Linked DNA regions of Homo sapiens: region 2 is linked to region 1. Evidence: fine-mapped expression QTL. A gene starts in region 1. The other region holds a variant in brackets. All regions are shown on one strand. Distances are from middle to middle.

What was found.
Region 2: its variant is fine-mapped to the expression of CCDC92B in vagina (GTEx, PIP above 0.99).

The regions. Positions count from the first base shown.
Region 1 is chr17:2,748,437-2,751,341 of GRCh38, reverse strand. CCDC92B (coiled-coil domain containing 92B) reads left to right here and starts at 1,690. Exons shown (of 4, transcript NM_001355573.2): 1 at 1,690-1,931. RefSeq lists a silencer at 1,311-1,500.
Region 2 is chr17:2,339,985-2,342,889 of GRCh38, reverse strand. All of the region lies in intron 1 of SGSM2 (small G protein signaling modulator 2), which reads right to left. Among named protein-coding and RNA genes, the nearest start is that of SGSM2, 3.9 kb to the right of the region's middle. The variant C/TCACTTGAAC (reference allele first, on the strand shown) is at 1,677.

The DNA of each region.
Region 1 (2,905 bases):
AAGACAGGGTTTTATCATCTTGGTCAGGCTGGTCTTGAATTCCTAACCTCATGATCCACCCACCTCAGCCTCCGAAAATGCTGGGATTAGAGCCGTGAGCCACTGAGCCTGGCCCCTGCAACTCTTTAGGATTAGAATTTTCCAGGAGCAGCTAAAGCTTTTTAGTTGTTGACACCTGAGTCCAGTTAACCTTTGGAAAGTGGGGAGGACAGGGAGGAAAGGGACCCATAGAGAGGCAGGGTGCCCCTTGAGGCCTCCCCAGGGCCTCTGTGGCAAGTAGGTGCCGGGTCTCCCAGCTCTGAAGGTACAGGGCTTCTCTGAAAATTTGGTCCAGGAGGAAAGGCCAGGGATTATTTGGCTAGCCATGGAGTGGGGAAAGCCAGGCACCAACCCATTAGCCTGAATCCACTCAGCCCAGTCCTCCAGGCAGGGACAGGAATGACTTACCCAGAGCAATCTCTGAGCCACCTGCCACTCACACAATGCTACCTCATCCCTTGTCATGAGCACAGAGGCCTAACAAGCACTCAGCAGTACTGTTCTGAGCACTTTACAGGAAGGAATTCATTTAATCCTCACAACAACCCGAAGATCTTATGAGCTACATAGATCATCATTATCCTCATTTACAGATGAGACCAAGCCCCCGGCAGGAGGAAGATATTAGGGCAGCCACACTTTTGAGGCACACAGTGGGACTCCTGAAGCCTCCCACGTTTGGTGAAAACGGATCAACAGCAATGCCTCGCACGTGTTCTGAACTTTGGAGTTTTTTTGTTTATTTGTTTTTGACATAGAGTCTCGCTCTGTCACACAGGCTGGAGTGCGGTGGCACGATCTTGGCCACTGCAACCTCTGCCTCCCAGGTTCAAGCGATTCTCCTGCCTCAGCCTTCCGAGTAGCTGGGATTAGAGGCGCCCGCCACTCCCGGCTAATTTTTGTAGTTTTAGTAGAGATTGGGATACATACACCATGTTGGCCAGGCTGGTCTCGAACTCCTGACTTCAGGTGATCCGCCCGCCTCGGCCTCCCAAACTGCTGGCCTCACAGGCGTGAGCCACTGCGCCCGGCCTGAACTTTGGAGTTTATCAAGAATCTTCCCTTGGCTCTTGGGACCCTCATAGAACTTAAAGCATAATAATAATAATAAAAGAATTTTAGAAATAGGGCATCTTATCAACTGCGGCCCAGAGAGGTGATGTGACTCACCCAAGGCCACACAGCTAGTGAGAGGTCTGGGGCAGGTTTGCTGCTGCCTAGACACGGGACGGATTCCCAGCCCACTGGTCAGATCGCGCTTCGCCCCAAGCCTTGCCTGCGCGGCTGCGGGCGCTGCCTCTCCTTCCTACGCCAGGGCGGGAGGGGCGGAGCGGATCGCGGCCTGGCGGCCTGGGCGCTGTCCGCGGTGCTGATCCTTCGCCGCGCCCCTGCGCGCCAAGGCACCGGCGGGTTCCCCAGTTTGCCCTTCCAGCTACCAGCCAAAGCCAGCTCCGCGAGCCCAGCGGCCCGCTGGGGGCCTCAGGCCCGGTTCCCGGGGCTCTCGGGGCTCCCGGGGTTCCCCCTCCCCCCGACCGCGCGCCGCCGGCCTCCCCTCCCCCCGCCCCGCCCACGGCCCCTCCCCGCCCGTCTCAGGTCCCTCCCCTCCCCCTTTCTCTCTCCCGCCCCCCGCACCCCTCCGGCTCGTTCGCCAGTTCCGGTCACGTTGCTGGGTGTTTACGCCTCGAGCCCGCCCCCGACCCCCCTTCGGCGCCCCCGAGCCCCCCGGAGCCCCGGCCCGACTGCCCCGCAGCCTCCCAGCAGCTGATGGCGCCGCAGCCGGGGCGGGCGCTGCAGATCCCCGGGCGCAGCTAGCGTGGGGGGAAGAGCGCCGCCCCCACCCAGCCCGGCCCGGACCCAGGGCCCCGCCGGCCGGTGACTCCCAGGTCCCGAAGGTGAGGAGGCCGGTCGGTGGGCGTGGGGGGTGTGGGCGCCGGAGCGGCCCCAGGGGGGAGCAGCGCGGCCAAGCTCCAGCTCCCCCGGGAGGGCTGGCGCGGGGCTGGGCACCGCAGCGCGCGGGAGGCGGACAGGACTCGCGGCGGGCTGCTGGCAGAAGTTGTCCTCCACCGCCCAGACCCGGGCCCTGCCTGGCACTGCCGGGCGTCCAGAGCGGCCCGAGGTCGAGCCCCGCCACCTCCCGCCACGCACACCTTTATTTCTGCTGCCTTTGCCCTCCTCTCTGCTACCTCGCTTCCCCGTCCTCCTTAGTCTCCACATCCCCCCCCCAACCCCTGCCTTCCCTGGGAGTCATATTGGAGGCATAATCAGGGCAGAACCTGAAGCCTGAAGGGGGTGGGGGGCTCCAGTTTCCCCATACACCCCATTCCCGTGTGACTGGATCCTCAGCTTTGCTGAGGTGGAGGGTCCTGAGCGCTTCAGTGCAGGGGGCAGCCAGAGTTGAGGGGTTCGGCGGGGAGGGGCTCCGGAGTGGAGAGGACCACAAGGTCCCTGGGGAGTGTGGCTCCACCACTGGCCAAGCGGCCCCACCTTGCAGACAGAGTCCTAGACATTTGTCAAAGGCTGAATCCTTGTTCCAAACTCCAGTCCCCAGGAAAGCCAAGGATGTGGGGTTGAGGGACCAGCATACTTATTTTTTAATATGTGTATTTACTTGCCCTGGTGATTCCCAGTAAGACTCAATCCATTCTCCCTGTTTCAGCAGCATTCATTGTGGGCCTGTTCCTTGCAAGAGATTCCCAGAGACAAAGCCTTGCCCTCAGGAAGCGTATGGCTTAGTACAGAAGCCAGGTGCATTCAGGCACATGCACACACACACACACACACACACACACACACACAAACACGATGAAGACTTATGGCTTTGCACGGAAGCCAGGTGCGTGCAGGCATGCGTGCACACACACACACA
Region 2 (2,905 bases), 410 kb after region 1:
TTCTCCTGCCTCAGCCTCCCGAGTAGCTGGGACAACAGGTGCATGCCACCACGCCCTGCTAATTTTTGTATTTTTAGTAACGATGGGGTTTCACCATATTGGTCAGGCTGGTCTTGAACGCCTGACCTCAGGTGATCCACCCGCCCGGCCTCCCAAAGTGCTGGGATTACAGGCGTGAGCCACTGTGCTCAGTCATTTCTTTAAGAAAGCACTTAAAAAGAAATCTTTTTAACTGATGTGCAGTAAACATATAAAAGAACATATCACAATTACACAGCGTGGTGAATTTTCACAAACTGAACACTCCTGTGAAATCAGCAACTAGAGCAAGAAACAGAACATGTGACCAACACCCTCGCCTCATCACCTTCCCTTCTAGTCACTATTCCCCCTAAGGGTACCCACTCTCCTGATTCCAACACGACAGTTTTGTGGGTTTTTATACTTTTTTTGTTTGTTTGTTTCTGAAATGGAGTTTCGCTCTTTTGCCCAGGCTGGAGTGAAGTGGCGCGTTCTCAGCTCACTGCAACCTCCAACTCCCGGGTTCAAGAGATTCTCCTGCCTCAGCCTCCACAGTAGCCGGGATTACAGGCATGCACCACCACACCTGGCTTTTTTTTTTTTTTTTGTATTTTTAGTAGAGACGGGGTTTCTCCATGTTGGCCAGGCTGGTCTTGAACTCCTGACCTCGGTGATCCACCCGCGTTGGCCTCCCAAAGTGCTGGGATTACAGGTGTGAGCCGCCACCACACCCGGCCTGGGTTTTTATACTTTTTATAAGTGGAATCACTCAGCGTGTAGTGTTTTGTGACTAGTTTCTTTTGCTCACCTGTGTCATTCTGAAATTTGTTCATGTTGTGTATAGCTGTAGATTGTTCATTCTCCGTGCGCGTTGTGTACAGTTGTAGGTTGTTCACTCTCCGTGGTGTGAACGTACAAACACCCGGCGTTTGGGTGGTTTCCAGTTTGGGGCTGTTATGGATACTGCTGCTGTGAACATTGAGGACTGTCTTCTGGTGAACAAATGTTTGGGATTTATGTTTCTAGGCAAGGAATGTCTGATGCACACACTTTATTAGATATTGCCAAATTGTTCTCCAAAGTTGGTTATACCACTTTACACTCCCATGTATGAGGTTCTGGTGGTTCCCAACATTTAACCCAAACTCTGTTGATGTCCTGGGAGAACCTGCTAGCAGGCAGTCCTAGTACTGGAGATTATAGAGATTACCTAGTGCAGAATGTTACACATAAAGTGAGCCTTGGGTAGAGCTAGTCTTCCCCATTCTTTAGACAGGAATGTAATGTTCTGATGCTGTCCAGGTTCCCAAGACCCTTAGTCAAGACTGTATAGTTTGGAGGGTGGTAGAACCTCAAAAGCCTGGGGAGGCGGGAAGAAGGACCTGGAGGCCCCTCCCTGCCGGAAACTGCTAATGGTTAGTGCTCAGGTAAAAGGGGATCAGATCAATTAATGCAAATGCACTCTAAGCTGTTAAAAGCTTCCTAGACGGCTGGGCATGGTGGCTCACGCCTGTAATCCCAGCACTTTGGGAGGATCAGGCTGACCAAAATGGTGAAACCCCATTTCTACTAAAAATACAAAAATTAGCCAAGCATGGTGGTGGGTGCCAGTAATCCCAGCTACTCAAGAGGCTGAGGCAGAAGAATCACTTGAA[C/TCACTTGAAC]CCGGAGGCAGAGGTTGCAGTGAGCTGAGATCGCACTCCAGCCTGGGCAACAAGAGTGAAACTCTATCTCAAAAAAACAAACAAACAAACAAAAAAAACTTCCTAGATTACCTCCCAAGGATGTTAGCATTCAACAGAGGATAATGTCACAGCTAAAGACCTGGAGGCATCTGAAGCAGGCTGATGGGGAGGATTTTTGGGTTGAAGGATCTGCAGATACCCCTAGAATTATACCAGTGGTCCTTTGTGAAAGGCCAGCCTGGTCTACCAATATTCCTGTTGTTTTTCCTTGCAGAAGGGACAGGATGTTTCTGTAGAAATTAAACACTGGGCCAGGCGTGGTGGCTCACGACTATAATCCCAGCACTTTGGGAGGCCAAGGTGGGCGGATCACGAGGTCAGGAGATCGAGACCATCCTGGCTAACATGGTGAAACCCCGTCTCTACTAAAAATACAAAAAATTAGCCGGGCGTGGTGGCAGGCGCCTGTAGTCCCAGCTACTCAGAAGGCTGAGGCAGGAGAAAGGCGTGAACCCGGGAGGCGGAGCTTGCAGTGAGCTGAGATGGCGCCACGGCACTCCAGCCTGGGCAACAGAGCGAGACTCCATCTCAAAAAAAAAAAAAGAAATCAAACACTGAAGGAGGAAAGGAGAAACATGAGTTCAGAGCAGGTCAACTTTTGTCAGGAATGATACGTAGCTGTGGCATATTCTGACATTTCTCACATTTTCTTAGGAATCACTTTTGGAGCAGTATAGTCCAGTTTCTAAGCACTGGTGGAAAAAGTCATCATCCTCTTAAAAAATATTTCCTGGCGGTCGCAGTGGCTCATGCCTGTAATCCCAGCACCTTGGGAGGCCAAGGCGAGGTCAGGAGATCGAGACTATCCTGGCCAACATGGTGAAACCCCATCTCTACTAAAATACGAAAAATTAGCTGGGTGTGGTGGCATGTGCCTGTAGTCCCAGCTACTTGGGAGGCTGAGGCAGGGAAATCGCTTGAACCCAGGAGCTGGAGGTTGCAGTGAGCTGAGATCGCACCACTGCACTCCAGCCTGGCGACAGAGCAAGACTCCGTCTCCAAAAAAAAAAAAAAGTATTTCCCATTATCTGTGACTAACCTCCAAAATTGAGCCATATCTATAATCCCAGCATATCCACCTCAAGTGTAGACACAAGTACTTTTCTATTTTGTTTACACTGTTCAAGTCTCTGTCACTAGACTGCTTC